Regions from separate parts of the Homo sapiens genome. Here all the other regions are linked to region 1. Evidence: fine-mapped expression QTL. A gene starts in region 1. Each other region holds a variant in brackets. All regions are shown on one strand. Distances are from middle to middle.

Region 1 (5,000 bases):
TTTCAAATAAGATTAACATCAATACTGATAAGTAGATAATATCACACATTAATAAACTTGTTATTGAGTTAACATATTCAATTGTCATCTTATTTTTAAATTTTTTTATATTTAAAAATTCAAAAAGCCTAAACCAGTACTTCGGCAATCATAATTACAAGAGCTTTAAATATCTATCTTTTCTGAAGATTGATGTTAATTGGGTCCTTGAAGTTCTAGAAGGGTGGTTCTTTCCTGGGTGATTTTGTCCCCCAAAAGATATTTGGCAATGTCTGGAGACATTTTTACTGTCATGACTGAGGGAAGTGGAGTGTTACTATCTCTACTGGGTAGAAGCCAGCGATGCTGCTAAACATCTCCCCATTACAAAGAATTATCTGGTCCAAGATGTCAATAGTGCAAAGGCTGAAAACAGTTTTAGAGGGGTCTGTGTACACATTTATTTCATCTCAAGAGTTTGTCCTATAACTTACTTCAAAACTAATAAGCTTACAGAGACTTAAGGATTTCTGCAGAAGCATCCTGCACACAGCAGATGCTTAACAGAAAACTAAGGAAAAAACAATTATGTATAGTTACTGCCAATTTTTAGCAGAACTCTGCAATGAATGACCCCCATTACTAAATTTCAACTTAGGAAATACATCTCTAGTTAAGATTTTGGGGCTGTGGATCTAGATAAATAAATATTTGGAAATCCTGCCAAACATCTTTTCAGGTTTATTTGATAATGCTGAAAATCGGAAGACATCCTATATTTTTGTTATCTAAGCAATTACTCCACATAATTTATGAGTAGCTGCTGTAATGGCATGTAAACGAAAATTAGATGCATAAATTCATCCTAGCACATTTTCCAGGCAAAGGTGGAAAAAAGTGCCTTACCTCTGTGGAACACTTAGGTACGGTCAGAGCCAAACACAGACACTCAAAATATTAAGTGAATCAAACACATTGTTTTATTTCAAGATCAAGCTACTAGTTGTTACTACTAGTTGTTACTATGTGACATGGTCCCAAGAGAGGATATTAAAATATACATATATACATAAAGCTGAGCATATGGGTATAGGAATTACAGAAAACATCAAAAAAGTCCTCTCAGCTATTCCCCAGAGGATTTTCCACAACGTTTCAAGATAGCCAAGTTGGCAGAGGGGTGGCCGCCCAGGTTCACCGCGGAGTTCCTATTTTGACTGTACCGTCATTCAGAAAAGAGTCGCCCGAACACCATTTTCAAGTCCTCCCGGCAGGACACAGTCAGTTTTCTCTGCGTAGCGGACTCCCTAAAAGCGCTCGACTTACCTGGCAAGAAACCTGCCTCGAAGAAGTGGCAGCATGAGGTCAGAAATCTGGACGCGCATTACGGGGAGAGTCACCGAGAAACCTGGGCATCTCTTACGTCCCGCGCCTCAAACACCCTGGTCCCCAACTCTCCACACGTCGCAGCTGCCCTCCGGTCATCGAGGCCAAGCGGCCGCGGGGACGCGGGAAGAAAAACCTCTGCCCTCGCCAGGGAGGGCCTTATGGCGGGAGGGGGCAGCGGGATAGGAAAGAGAATCTGAGCCGAGACGGCGCCGACAGGCCTGGGCGAAAGGGGTGCCACCCACCTGCGCGACCTCTTCGCCATCCTTCAAGTACCGCATAGGAGCAGGCTGGGCGGGGACGCGGGTCAGCCTCCTCCAGCCTCCGGCGAATGCTCCTTCTCCCCGATCCTCTAGCCGCTTCCCTCGCTCCCTCTGGAGGCGGCCGAGTGCGGAACGCACGTCCTCGACAGGGCAGGACGGAGGGACAGCGGGGGCGGACCGCGACCCGACCCCGACCCCGGCCCGCAGCGCCGCTCTTAGCCCCGGCCCGGCCCGGCCAGGGATACCCCCAACATGTCAGGAGGCGCGATCCCGCCCTCCGCCGGCTTCTCCCGCCGCTTGTCAGCCTCCCTGCCCTGGCCCCAGCCCGGCTCCGCCACAGGCGCCCGACCCCTGCCCTCTCCCCCGCAGCTAGCAGTTCTGCAGGGCTCGCAGTCTCCTGCAGGGTTTTGTCCGCACCGCCGAATCTCGCGCCCAGCCTCCCTCAAGAGCCGCCGTTTGAATCTGCGCACGCGGCCCTGAACCTCATTGGCTGTGGGGGCCGCACGCGAAGAAGCGAGGGCGGGGAGGGGAGAGCGCGCGCGGCTGAGGGCGGGGCTGGGGAGCTGGAAGCTGGGACTGGAACTCGCGGGAGTCGGGGAAGGAGCCGGGAGCCAGGGGGTGGGGCCGCGGGTGGGGCCGTAGGTGGCGCATGCGAGCCGAGCTGTCATAGGACCCGGAACGCGCCGAGAGGCGCACCGCGCGGGGCCTGCTGGGAGAGCGAGTTCCTGCGCTCGCCGAGGAGTGGGTCCGGAAGCGGCGCCGGAGCGGGTCCGGAAGCGGGCGGTGGAGAAGTCCAGTTGCCCCAAAATTCTTAGGGTGAGCGAACCGAGTTTCTGGCGGGGTGGGTGGTCCCGCGGCCCACCAAGGGAACGTCTCCGCAGCCTCGCCTCGGCGACAGCTCCTGGCTCCTTAGGTGTCTTCCGCCTCACTAGTTAGGATGCGCGGTCTTCAGACTTGAGACAAATCTAACCATAAATTTGCGCGGCCGTTATTTTTTAAGCAAAAATGTGAGCTATTTTTACCCAGACATCATAGTTACGAGAGTGACGAAGACTCTGGCAGGAAACCAAATATCACCTGTTTTCCTCAAAAAGCAGCAGAAGAGTGACAAGTGAAAAAAGTTCCTAGCGGGAGACGTGCTTGGAACCGGAGATAATCTGTGTCTACCGCTGGTCTTCAAGGTGCTTAATTTCGTGCCCGCTCTACAGGAAATAACGTGCGCGGCGGAGGAGCCCTGTCCTGGAGAATAACGCGTGAAGAAGACAGTGGACTGGGCATTTCGTCCAGATGAATGAGCATGGTAGTTAAGTGTAGAAGGTGACCTTCTTCCCTCTGGAGAGACCAGGGAGGGGGGAACCACCGGAGGAGTTTCTAGCGGTTGCAGCTACTTGAGGTTCCAGTCTAATAACTACGAACTGTTCATTTCAAGTAGCATTAAAGTAGATTTGCTACAGTAACAATTACACTTGGCTAAGGAAAATTTGCAAGGCAACATGGTCTATTGCATAGAGCACTGAGCCACATGTTAACACTGTAACAAACACTTGCTATTTTGAAATTTTACGCTTCATCTTTTGCAAATCAGATGCAGGTGCAGAGTGAATTAAGAGGAGCTGAATTAAGAGAGAAGCTTGCATGCACTGCTGTCAAAACCTAAACACACTGGCTTTTTTTTTTTTAACAGTTCCTTTTTTCAAGGTATAGATTCTGGGAAGGTAAGGGAAGATAAAACAGCTTTTCTTTTTCTCTCCTGTTTTTTTTTTTGTTGTTTTTTTTTTGAGACTAGGTCTCACTCTATTCCCCATGCTGGAGTGCAGTGGCACAATCATAGCTTACAGTAGCCTCGAACAGCGATCCTCTTGCCTCAGCCTCCAAAGTAGCTGGGACTACAGGCGCGCGCCACAACACCTGGCCAAGCGTTTCTTCCAGATCATTCCTTACTGGGTTGCTGGTTCAGTAAAAATAAAAAAATAAAAAATAATTTAGAAATGAGTTCCCAAATTTCATTATGTTCCCAATGTCATTTGGAATCACTGTTTCACTGTTTTCTTATTTACCCCTGGGTCGTACATTACTTCACTTATTTATATCTAACAGGAAGCAGAGCTTCTGCTATATTTTAGGCTGTATTCAGTTTTATACAGAATACCTTTTTTAGAGCTTGAAGACAAATGTTTTAGATTTTGACAGTAAAACAAATTTCCCTCATTTTTACATATAGAGAAAAGCAATTCCCAGAAAGATAACATTGTGAAATTACTGAAATCAGTTATAAAACTCAGGGCAAAGTGTGGAATTAAAGTGGTTCACAGTCATTTGAATACACATACTCAGATGTATTCTAAACTAAGATGAGTTTTTTTTTAAGCAAACGTTTAGAGATTTTATTCAGAGTATATAAAGAACTCTCAAAACTCAGTGAGAAAAAAAGCATTTAAAAAATGGGCAAAAGATTTAAACAGATTTCACCAAACGAGATATATATATACATACACACACACACACACACACACACACACACACACACACACGACAGGCATATTAAATGATGTTCCACCTCATTAGTCATTAGAGAAATGCAAATTAAACCACAATGAGATACTAGACTACACTTCTGTTAGAATGAGCGGGGAAAATGACTGACTATACAAATGTTGGTGAAGATGAAAATGCTGAGCAAGTACAACTTGCATACATTGCTGTTAGGCATGCAGAATTCAGCCATTTTGCAAAACATTTATAGTGGCTTTGTTTTGTTTGTTTTTTAATTTTTGTGGGTACATAGTAGGTGTATATATTTGTGGGGTACATGAGATGTTTTGATACAGGCATGCAATGTGAAATAATCACATCATGGAGATGGGGTATCCATCCCCTTGAGTATTTATCCTTTGTGTTACTTTTAGTTATTATAAATTTTAGTTATTTTAAAATCTACAATCAAGTTATTGACTCTAGTCAACTTGTGCTGTCAAATAGTAGGTCTTTTTTTTTTTTTTTTTTTTTTTTTTTAGACAGTCACTCTGTCACCCAGGCTGGAGTGCATTGGCGCGATCACCACTCACTGCAACCTCCACCTCCCATGTTCAAGCAATTCTTGTGCCTCAGCCTCCCAAGCAGCTGGGATTACAGGCATGTGTCACCATGCCCGGCTAATTTTTGTGGTTTTTGTTTTTTGAGACAGAGTCTCACTCTGTCACCCAGGCTGGAGTCCAGTGGCATGATCTTGGCTCACTGCAACCTCTACCTCCCGGGTTCAAGAAATTATCCTGCCACCCCAGGCTAATTTTTTGTATTTTTAGTAGAGATGGGGTCTCACCATGTTGACCAGCCTGGTCTGGAACTCCTGACCTCAGGTGATCCTCCCGCCTC
Region 2 (5,000 bases), 80 kb before region 1:
CACAAGCAGATCTACCAGGTGTCTCAGGGCTTGCGCTCTTAGGGTCTAAAAGGGCTTTGCTATTTAAAAAACTGCAAGAAAACAAATTGTTCTGCAGACTCTGAAGGGCAATTACTAAGGAGAGGTTCCAAAGACATTTGGGAGATGACGTCACCGGAATGAATGGACTGCTTGCCACGGTTTTAAAGAGAACAGCCCTCATTAGACCCCACAGGTTTCATACAATCCCCATACGACTCTCTAATCAGAGACGGAGCAGGCTGTTTACAGTGTTTGTGGTGCAGTTATTTTGACAGGACAGCTATTTTGACAGAGCCTCATGGAAACTGCTCCATGAAATGGAGCCTCCTTCTGTCTGGTATCACAGAACCCTGTAAGCATCCCTGATGCTTGCTCTGCCTCTGGCCACCATGGTTTATAGGGAATTTTTGCTCCTTCTATTGCTTTTGGTTCCATATTAGTCATCTAATTTATTTATTCTTAATGAAATATATAAATAACATGCAACATTCGTGTGAAAAAAAGGTAGGCTATCACGCTGATGTGTACTTAGAGAAACTCCCTAGATGGATATTTTCTTTTTTTTTTTTTTTTTGACAAGAGTTTGACAAGAGTTTTACTCTTGTCACCCAGACTGCAATGGCGCAATCTCGGCTCACTGCAACCTCCGCATCCCAGGTTTAAGCAATTCTCCTGCCTCAGCCTCCCTGGGATTACAGGCATGTGCCACCACGCCTGGCTAATTTTTGTACTTCTAGTAGAGACGGGGTTTCACCATGTTGGCCAGGCTGGTCTCGAACTCCTGACCTCAGGTGATCCACCCCCTCTTGGCCTCCCAAATGCTGGGATAACAGGCCGGCCCAGACGGATATTTTCTAAACTGGCAGTATTCATTGCTTCTAGCGTGGGATCTTAGGGACTTGGGAACAGGTATAGTGAGAACAGTATTGCTCAAGATACACCCTTTTGAACTCTGAATATTTTTTGTATCAAATGCATCTGATTTTTAATCTTGTTTTAAAATTTATTTGTGAGCAGTTTTAGATTTACAGAAAAAATGGGCAGAACACAGAGCTCTCACATACTCCCTCACCCCTCCACACCCTATTATTAATATCTTGCATATTAGTGTAGTACATGTGTTACAATTGATGAGCCAATATTGATACATTATAACTAAAGTCCTCTAGGCCAGGTCCCTCACCCCTGTAATCCCAACACTTTGGAAGGCCAAAGCAGGCACTGGGATTTGAGGACAGCCTGGGCAACATGTACATTTAACAAAAATTACCAAAAATTACCAAAAAAATTAGCCAGGTGTGGTGGCGCAAGCCTGTAGCCCCAGCTACTGGGGAGGCTGAGGTAGGGGGATCACTTGAGCCCAAGAGGTCGAGGCTGCAGTGAGCCATGATAGCACCACTACACTCCATCCTGGGGAACAGAGCAAGGTCCTGTCTCAAAAAACAAACAAACAAACAAAGTCCATAATGTACATTATGTCACCTTTGATGTTGTACATTCTATGGGTTTCGACAAATGTGTAATGACATGTATCTGCCATTTCAGGATCAGACAGACTAGTTTCACTGCCATAAACACCCTCTGTGCTCTCTCTTCCTGTTCATCTCTCCCTTCCTCTCTCTCTCCACTGGACCCCTGGTAACAACTGGTCTTTTTATCATCTCCATAGTTTTGCCTTTGATTTTTGTTTTAACCATGTGCATTTTTACTTATTTAAAAAAATTGTTTTAATCTTAAGAATATTTTTGAAAAGTCCATTCAAACTAGGTTAGCTTTTCAGGGGATGCCCCTCCTCCAAACCGTCATCATAAAGGAATGTAACCTATTAACTAATGCCAATACAAAATATGTTGAGAAAACTGTTAGAAATGTAATTGAGCATTCTCTGGGCAGCCTGTTGCTAAGGAAAAAGGATCACATTGTCTCCAGTATCCTCGCCTCCTACCCCCTGCCCCCTCTAGCGTCTGAAAAATAATTCCACTGACATATTCAAGAAACTTAGAAAAAATAGACAGATTTGCAAATCTGTCATAAAATATGGGTGTTGCAACTCAAAGAGCAAAATCAGAGGACGTGAGATGTAGAATTCTCAGGACTCAAGCAGATTCTCAGAAAAGAA[A/G]CAACCCTCACCAAGCATAATGATGCACTTCCTGAGGGCCCGCATGTGGTAAACACAATCATGGTGTTGTTATTCGTGGTTTTCCATCAGCGACTGCCTGCCCCGGGGACCTGACACAGCCTTGGTCCCCGCCTTCCCCGATCCCTGTCTCAGAGGCATCCAGGGCACTGGCATGGAGGGGAGGTTCAGCGACCAAATGGAGCTTGGGATGGATGAAGCTCTTCCTTTATTGATAATAAAGTCAGTTGAAAAAATCAGTGTTGTGTGGGGTTTTTTAATGACTTTTTTAGGCTTCTTTTAAAAGGCTGTATCAAATATGCTTATGCCAAAATGATAATGTCAAAATGCCAGGTGCCCTCCCAGACTTAATGAGATGCTAGCCCACCTGTCACTCCAAGGAGAGGGAACAGAGGCATGCACAGGGGGAAGGACCTTTCACAGGGGGAAGCCAGCGTGCAGCAGAGGGGATCAAACATTCAGTTATACTGTGGCGCCATAATATGTGTCGTATTTTACACACACACAGGATTAAATGCTCACCTCAACAGAGCAGATTTACTCATTATGCATTCCCTCTAGAGACTATCAGAATTTCTGAATTATCAAAATCAACACCAGATATCAATACCAGAATTATCAAACTCAATCTTTTTCTTGCTTTTACTTATATACTGTGCTTTAAAACCCTGGTGCTGTAGGCAGCCATGGTGATTAGAGATCAGTTCTACAGCTCCATGATCTTCCCATCAAAACACATGTCAGTTAACTCCCTTCAGGACTGAAAGGTTTGTCTCCAGAAACCTGCAAGGGGTATGACAAGTGCCAAATGTGGGTCTGGGGTCTCCTAAAGAAAGGGCTGTGACATGACCAGAGCAAGGAGATTGGCTCTCTGGAATAGCACGCGCGCGCGCATGTGTGTGTGGGTGTGTGTGTGTGACTGGGTTTTGCTCTGTTGCCCAGGCTGGAGTGCAGTGTTGCAATCATAGCTCACTGCAGCCCTGAACTCTCGGGCTCAAGGAATACTTTCAACTCAGCCTCCCAAGTAACTTGAAATACAGCCACAAACCATCACAATCGGCTAATTTTGTGTTGTTGTTGTTGTTGTTGTTGAGGCCAGGTCTCACCACGTTGCCTAAGCTGTTCTCAAACTCCTGGGCTCAAGCAATCCTCCCACCTCAGCCCCCCAAAGTGTTGGGATTACAGATGTGAGCCATCATGCCCAGCCTATAGCACCTTTTGTTAGTGAGTTTAGGAAAAGCAATTGAGTCACCCTAAAGCCTTAATCTTTACAAGAATCACCTGATGAGTTTGTAGAAATACAAATTCCTGGGTCCCTATCTCAGATTACCATAGGTTAGGGTAGAGGAAAAAAAAAAAAAACACAGGGAATTCAGATGCTATCAGTCCAATTGGCCCTAAATTGTCAGTGAGTGAGTGAATTTCACTTGACTTCCTTTCACTTTCACTTCATTTCACACTTTCACTTCATTTCACAATGGCCCATGTTTTTCTGGAGAAGAAGCTGAATCCTAAAGGGCAGCCTTATTTAAATAGTGAGACACATCATTGAATATTTACTTGTAATTTATATATTGCCTGTTTCTGGAATTGCTGAAGCAGTCAATGCTTGAGCAGGATTGCAAGGAGAGATACATATTAGGGAAAACTAGAAGATGGGGGACCTTACATTTGTGAGTGGCTGGTATCGGCTCATCCCCGGTTTTCACAAATACACATTCTCATGTAGTCCTCCCAGCAACCTCATTTTCTAAATGAGAAATTGGAGGCTTAGAGAGGTTCAATAACTTGCTCAAGGTCACACAGACACTAAGTGTGTTTCTGTCTGCTTTGATCCCATATCGGTCCAATACCCTACAGCTGCAACCTATCTGAAACTCTAAACAAGAAAGCGTGAAATCACTTGTATTTAAAATTAACAGAAAAAGAAGAAAAAAAAAAAAAACCTTTTGAAAATGTTTGCACCAGATGACTACATGAGCATGGCCAGCAAAACCTCTCTTGAAAGGGGAAATAATTTGGCTGCTTGTGGTTTAGAAACATTGCCCCACCCTCAATGCTGTACCTATCAAGTCAGCAAGCTCCCTACTAACTGTGCCCTCCACTTGAGTCATGAATATGCCAGCAACAGGAAAGGAAGGGGAAATTCCATTAAACATCTGAAGTCTTGTTTCAGGAATGAGTGACTCAGAGGCCACTGACAGCTCCCGGCCCTTATGAAGAAGCCACAGGCAATCAGTGAGCACTTGACGGAACTTGGGCTTCCAGAGCACCAACTTCTAGAGGATGGTTGATTTCTGGGCCCCAAGTCTGCAGTCAAACATTTCAGAAACCTCTGGGGCAAGTGCTTTAACTTCCCTAACTCTCGGTGTCTTTGTGTAAAATGAAGATAACACCTACTGCACAGAGAAATTGTGAGGCACAAAATAAGATAGGGAGGTAATGACATTGGCACACAGTAGGTACTGGAACGATGGGAACTCCTGATTGCCAGGAGAAAGGAAGAAGCATAATAAACAGCAGTCAGTTAAAGTGCTCTCCTCTTGACTTCATTTCTTCAACAACCATAAGTTGAGCGCTCACTGAATGCCGAAGACACAAAGGAGAAGGCAGGTGGGCAGACGGATTGAGCTCCCGTGATGATGCAATGTGATCAGTGCAGAAACCCAAGAGGAGCAAAGAGGCAGGGCTGGGGAGGAGAACTGATGAGTTCTGCCTGGGGCATCAGAAGGACCCAGGGGAGCTGGGCTTGGGCAGGGCCAGGAGTAAGAGGTCACTAGCTAGACAAAGAAAAGGTGTTTTAGGCAAAGCAAAGAGCATAAACAAAACCACAGATGACAGA
Region 3 (5,840 bases), 66 kb before region 1:
CTTCCTTTTTTTTTTTTTTTTAACAAGGTCTTGCTCTGTCACCTGGACTGAAGTGCAATGGTGAGATCTCAGCTCACTGCAACCTCCACCTCCCTGGTTCAAACAATTCTCTTGCCTTAGCCACCCAAGTAGCTGGGACTACAGGTGCACGCCATCACACCTGGCTGATTTTTGTATTTTTAGTAGAGACAGGGTTTCCCCATGTTGGCCAGGCTGGTCTCAAACTCTTGGCCTCATGTGAGCCGCCTGCCTCGCCTCTCAAAGTGCTAGGATTACAGTTGTGAGCCACTGCACTCAGCCAGTGACTCCATTTCTGAAAGTAGACTAGGAGTTACTGGGGCTAGAAATGATTATTTCTATCTCCTGAATCCCTAGCACAGAACTTTAAAAATATATAGTAGGAGCTCAATAAATACATGTTGGAGGAAGGAGGGGAGGGAGGGAAGGAAGGAGAGGAGGGATGGAGGGAAGGAGGGAGGGAGGGAAGGAAGGAAGGAGGGAAGGAAGGAAGGAAGGAAGGGAGGAGGGAAGGAAGGAAGGAAGGAGGAAAGGAAGGAAGGAGGGAGGGAGGAAGGGAGGGAGGGAAGGAAGGAGGGAGGGAGGGAAGGAAGGAGGGAGGGAGGAAAGGATGGAAGGAAGGAAGGAAGGAGGGAAGGAAAGAGGGAGGGAGGGAGGGAGGGAGGGAGGGAGGGAAGGAAGGAAGGAAGGAAGGAAGGAAGGAAGGAAGGAAGGAAGGAAGGAAGGAAGGGAAAAGGAATAAGATTCTCTGTTTTAGAATTGAGGAAATCAAAGCCCCGAAAGTCTTCTATATAAGCCTTCCAATTCCAAATCCTACCTATAAAACCAATCAAGAGTTACATAGAATTTTTTTTTTTTTGAGACAAAGTCTTGCTTTGTAGCCTAGGCTAGAGTGCAGTGGTGTGCCTATTGCACACCTCAACCTCTTGTTGTTGTGGCTTACTGCAGCCTCAACCTCTTGGGCTCAAGTGATCCTCCCACCTCAGCTAAGTAGCTGGGACTACAGGTGCACACCACCACACCTAGTAATTTATTCTATTTTTTGTAGAGACAGAGTCTCACTTGTTGCCCAGTCTGGCCTTGAACTCCTGGACTCAAGTGACCTTCCTTCCTCAGTCTCTCAAAGTGCTGAGACTACAGGCATGAGCCACTCTCTGGGGCCAAATATTTGTTATATTATCAAACACAAGATTAGAGGTAGAGTGACTTTGCATATGACTTGCTTATGTTTATTGTTCCTGTATGATTATGGATAGCATCACATTTCAAGTTCCAAACTGTCCTTAGTTTACATAGTAAATTATATGACCATTCCAGTTACAGCTGCTCTTTCTCTTTTTTTTTTTTTTTTTTTCTAAGACAGGTTCTTACTCCATCACCCAGGCTGGAGTGCAGTGGTGCAATCATGGCTCACAGCAGCCTCAACCTCCTGGGTTCAAGCAATCCTCCCACCTCAGCCTCCCAAGTAGCTGGGACTACAGGTGTGCACCACCACACCTGGCTGATTTTTAAACATTTCTGTAGAGAAAGGGTCTCACATTTTTGCCCAGGCTGGTCTCAAACTCCTGCGTTCAAGCAATCCTCCTGCCTAAGCCTCCTGAAGTGCTGAGATTACTGGCCACAGCTACTCTTAAGTCAACAAAAACCCTCTGAGTCACCCTCCCCTATAAACTCTTTCTTGTCCATGGTTCCTGTTAGTACCTCAGAACCTGTTGGAGTCATTGCTGAACACTGAATACAGAACTGGGGTGGTTACACGGGTCAAAGCTTTCAGAGCACTCTTCAAACTAAAAATGCAAATTTTTTCATATTTCTCATGTGATTCAATATCAGATTCTCACTTTTGACCATCCCTCTATAGCCTACAATATTACACATGGATGTGAAC[T/C]AAGTTATGGCTTTTTAAAAATGTTTTGCTGCTATCTTCTTTTGTTACATTTTATTGGTTATACATGCCAAACAAACCAATTAATTTTTAACAGCTTTATTGAGGCATAATTTACATACCATTAAATTCACTCATTTCGAGTATTCAATTCAATAATTTTTGATAGGCTGGGCATGCTGGCTCATGCCTATAATTCCAGCATTTTAGGAGGCCAGTGAATTGCTTGAGCCCAGGAGTTCAAGACCAGCCTGGATGACATGGCAAAACCTCACTGCTATAAAAAAATATACAAAAATTAGCTAGGCATGGTGGTATAGACCTATAGTCCCAGCTGCTCGGGAGGCTGAGGCAGGAGGATCACTTGAGCTCAGGAGGTCAAGGCTGCAACGAGCTGTGATTGTGCCACTGCACTCCAGCCTGGGAGACAGAGTGAGACCCTGCCTCAAAAAAAATAAAAAAATTTTATAAACTCACAGAGTTGTGTAACCAACACCACAGTAATTGGATTATTTTTATTTATATAATGGAAGTCATGCATATCTTGAGCTATTATATGAGTTATTTAATGTACAAAACCCCAAACATATATTCTCTAACTCTCTTTCTTTTTCTCAACAATTCAATGCTGTAATAACTTATATCTGTCTCAGGAAATGACTTCCTCTCAAGCCTTAGGAAAATAAGTGGGGATTATAAAATAATGACCATATTCTTGAGCATAATAGTACTGTTAGCAGCCTCAAATCCATAGGGGTCTGCAGCAACCTCAATTCTTGCCTCCTCAGAAGAATTCAACCGAGGGGCATAAGGCAGAGTGACAGACCCAGGCAAGTTTTAGAGCAGGAGTGAAAGTTTTTTAAAGAAATTTTGGAGTAGGAAGGAAAGAAAGTAAAGTACACTTGGAAGAGGGCCAAGTGGTGACTTCACAGATTCAAGTGCCCTGTTTGACCTTTGACTTGGGGTCTTATACATTGGCATGTTTCTGGGGTTTTGCTCTCTTCTCCCCTGATTCTTCCCCTGGGGTGGGCTGTCCACAGCTCAGTGGACTCCCAGCAGTTGAGAGGAGCCCCAGGAGCAGTGTTTACTGGTGTTGTACATGCTCACTTGAAGCATTTTTGCCTTACCAGTCAAGTGTTCCTGGAGGAAGGTCATATAGCACTTAAACTCCGTCATTTTGCCTCTTAGTGCTCATGCTGGAGCCTGCTCACCCAACTCCTAAGATCTTATTGGGAAGCTGCTAATCACCAGTTTCAGGTGTTTCTATCTATTGGGAGACTGCCTTTGCCTGGTGCTGGTTGTGACCAATTTTTTTTTATAGAGACGAGGTCTCACTATATTGCCCAGGCTGGTCTCAGTGATCCTCCCACCTCTGCCTCTCAAAATGCTGGGATTACAGGAGTGAGCCACTGCCCCTGGCCACAATTATTATTTTAGAGAGACAGTTTAATAACCACCTGACCATCACCTCATGGTTGCCTGACATTTCTGGTGAACACAGGGTTGGCGGGGGGCCTTTCCTGCCCTGCTCGTGTCTGACTAGCTATCCACTGTAATAGTACTTTAGTATTTTTTTTCCAGAACACACTGCATTTTATGTTTTCACAAAAATGAGGAGAAATAACCATAAGTGAGAAGATAGCTCTGTCCTTACAATGTGGGAGAAAGTCGATAGCTGACATCTGATGATTTAATTACATGGCCCACAGACATTCTGCCTCCAGGGTTCCTCTCATCACTATCACCCAACCAAGCATTCTACCTCCTCAGCTACTTTCTTTTTGTGGTTATTACTAAATAGATATCCTGTGTTGTCATTTAAAACCATTGCCACTGGGTTATAATAAGAGAAGAAAATCCAGGCAGCTGCTAAGAATGCAGTGGCTTGTTTTCCCATGGGCCCCTTTGTTCTTTACCACGGCTTGACATTCTGTGTGAGGATTCCAGGCTTGAAACTGCTAATTCACTGTCTTTCATCACAGAACCCAAAGAGACCCCATCATGGCTGCAATGCCCCGTTTAACTGAAATGTACCATTAACCATGCTCTTATCCATTTAATATAAAATCAACTACTCCCGTCAACTACTGTGACTAGAGTTTCTGATATCAACATGCCAACAAAACAATGGCAATGAGAGCTAAATCTTACTTCCCACCAAGCTTTGTGTCATAGTTCACTGGCCACCGAACATATTCAAGAACATGAACAGTCAAGGAAATGCTGGAAGAGAGTGAAAGAGATCTTTCTAGGGATGGGGGTTTCTTATTCAAGAACCCCAGGAGTGGTTCCCCAAATTCTGGATTTCATGTGCCTGTAAGATTTCAAAAATATTAGGGGTTTGGAGAATAGGTTTGGGGTTTGGCATATATTGCCAAATTAGGACTATCCTCATTGTTTCAGAAAGAAAGATTATTATGCAGACACCCCAAAAATAGAAAGAATGTGTTCTCAGAATGAATGACCATTCTATAAGTTAATTAACTTTTGTTTTACTTAAAAACTTATTATGCCCACCAACTTTTCTCAAATAAAAGTATAGCTTCACCCAAAATATAATTGCCTTTCATATAGACAACGAAATTTTTGAAATGCTTGTTTGTACTCAGCTACAGAAAGGAGATCCTGGATGGGCATGGTGACACATGCCTATAATTCCAGCGCTTTGGGAGGCCAAGGTAAGAAGACACTTTAAGCCAGGAGTTTGAGACCAGCCTGGGCAACATAGCGAGATCCCCATCTTTCCAAAAAAAAAAAAAAATTAGCTGAGTGTGGTGGTGCATGACTGTAGTCCCAGCTACTCAGGAGGCTAAAGTTCAAACATCACTTGAGCCCAGGAGTTTGAGGCTGCAGTGAGCTATGATCACACCACTGCACTCCAGCAAAACTCCATCTTTAAAAAAGAGAGAGAGAGAGAGATCCTGCCATTTCCCACAACATGGATGGAAAGGACCTGGATGACACCTTGCTAAGTGAAATAAGCCAGACACAGAAAGAAAAAATACTGCATGATCTTACTTACATGTGGAATCTTAAAAAAAAAAAAAACCCAAATACACAAAGATAGAGAACAGGGACAAGTGAGGAGGGGAAGGGAGAGAAAATAGGGAGATGTAGCAAGTACAATGTGAGGACCAAAGTTAATAAAATTGTACTGTATTGGGAATTTTTGTTAAATAAGATTTTTAGCTGCTCTTGTCACACACAAAAAAGGAACTATGTGAGATAATGTATATGTTAATTTGCTTTACTATAGTATCAATTTTACTATCTATACATATCCTTTAATATCACGGTTTGTTTTGTTTTGTTTTGCTTTGTTTTGTTTTGTTTTGAGACAGGATCTCACTCCTGTAGCCCCCACTGGAGAGCAGTGGTGTGGCGCAATCTCAGCTCACTGTAGTCTCAACCGCCTGGCCTCAGGTGATCCTCCTACCTCAGCCTCCTGAGTAGCTGGGACTACAGGCACCCAGCTAATTTTTTTGTTTTTTTAGTAGAGACAGGGTTTCGCCATGTTGCCCAGGCTAGTCTCAAACTCCTGGACTCAAGCAATCTGGCCACCTCAGCCTCCCAAAGTGCTGGGATTACAGGCATGAGCCACCATGCCCAGCCAATATCATGTTTTAAGCCTCAAATATATACAATACAATTTATTGTTTAACAAAGAAAAACATTTATTTCTAATTATTTGCCCAGATTGAAAGATTGATTTTTAAAAATCTCAAACTGAATTCTAGAATTCAGGCAATATTTGGTATTGCAATGATCTAATGAATTCCATTCACTCTATGTTCCTATCCCGCCCACCTCCCAACCCTTAATTTGTATTATGGTCTAGGGAAACACGCTATTCTTTCTAGGGAAACAATGCTATTCTTTCTCCACCAGCAAGCTTGAGAAAACATTTACCTTTAAAACCACATCATAGCAAGACCCT

Evidence for each region. PIP is the estimated chance that this variant, and not a neighbour inherited with it, causes the effect.
Region 2: its variant is fine-mapped to the expression of MYBL1 in whole blood (INTERVAL, PIP 0.90).
Region 3: its variant is fine-mapped to the expression of MYBL1 in whole blood (TOPMed, PIP 0.95).

Annotation. Positions count from the first base shown.
Region 1 is chr8:66,611,209-66,616,208 of GRCh38, forward strand. MYBL1 (MYB proto-oncogene like 1) reads right to left here and starts at 2,010. Exons shown (of 16, transcript NM_001080416.4): 1 at 1,611-2,010. The coding sequence starts at 1,630. LOC105375884 (a long non-coding RNA gene) reads left to right here and starts at 2,341. Exons shown (of 2, transcript XR_929015.3): 1 at 2,341-2,444; 2 at 2,837-4,650. RefSeq lists a silencer at 1,777-2,296 and enhancers at 2,527-2,666, 2,717-2,796, 2,807-2,856.
Region 2 is chr8:66,531,635-66,536,634 of GRCh38, forward strand. All of the region lies in intron 1 of LOC124901955 (a long non-coding RNA gene), which reads right to left. Among named protein-coding and RNA genes, the nearest start is that of VXN, 41 kb to the left of the region's middle. The variant A/G (reference allele first, on the strand shown) is at 2,141.
Region 3 is chr8:66,545,259-66,551,098 of GRCh38, forward strand. No RefSeq gene overlaps it. Among named protein-coding and RNA genes, the nearest start is that of VXN, 55 kb to the left of the region's middle. RefSeq lists an enhancer at 1,553-1,602. The variant T/C (reference allele first, on the strand shown) is at 1,907.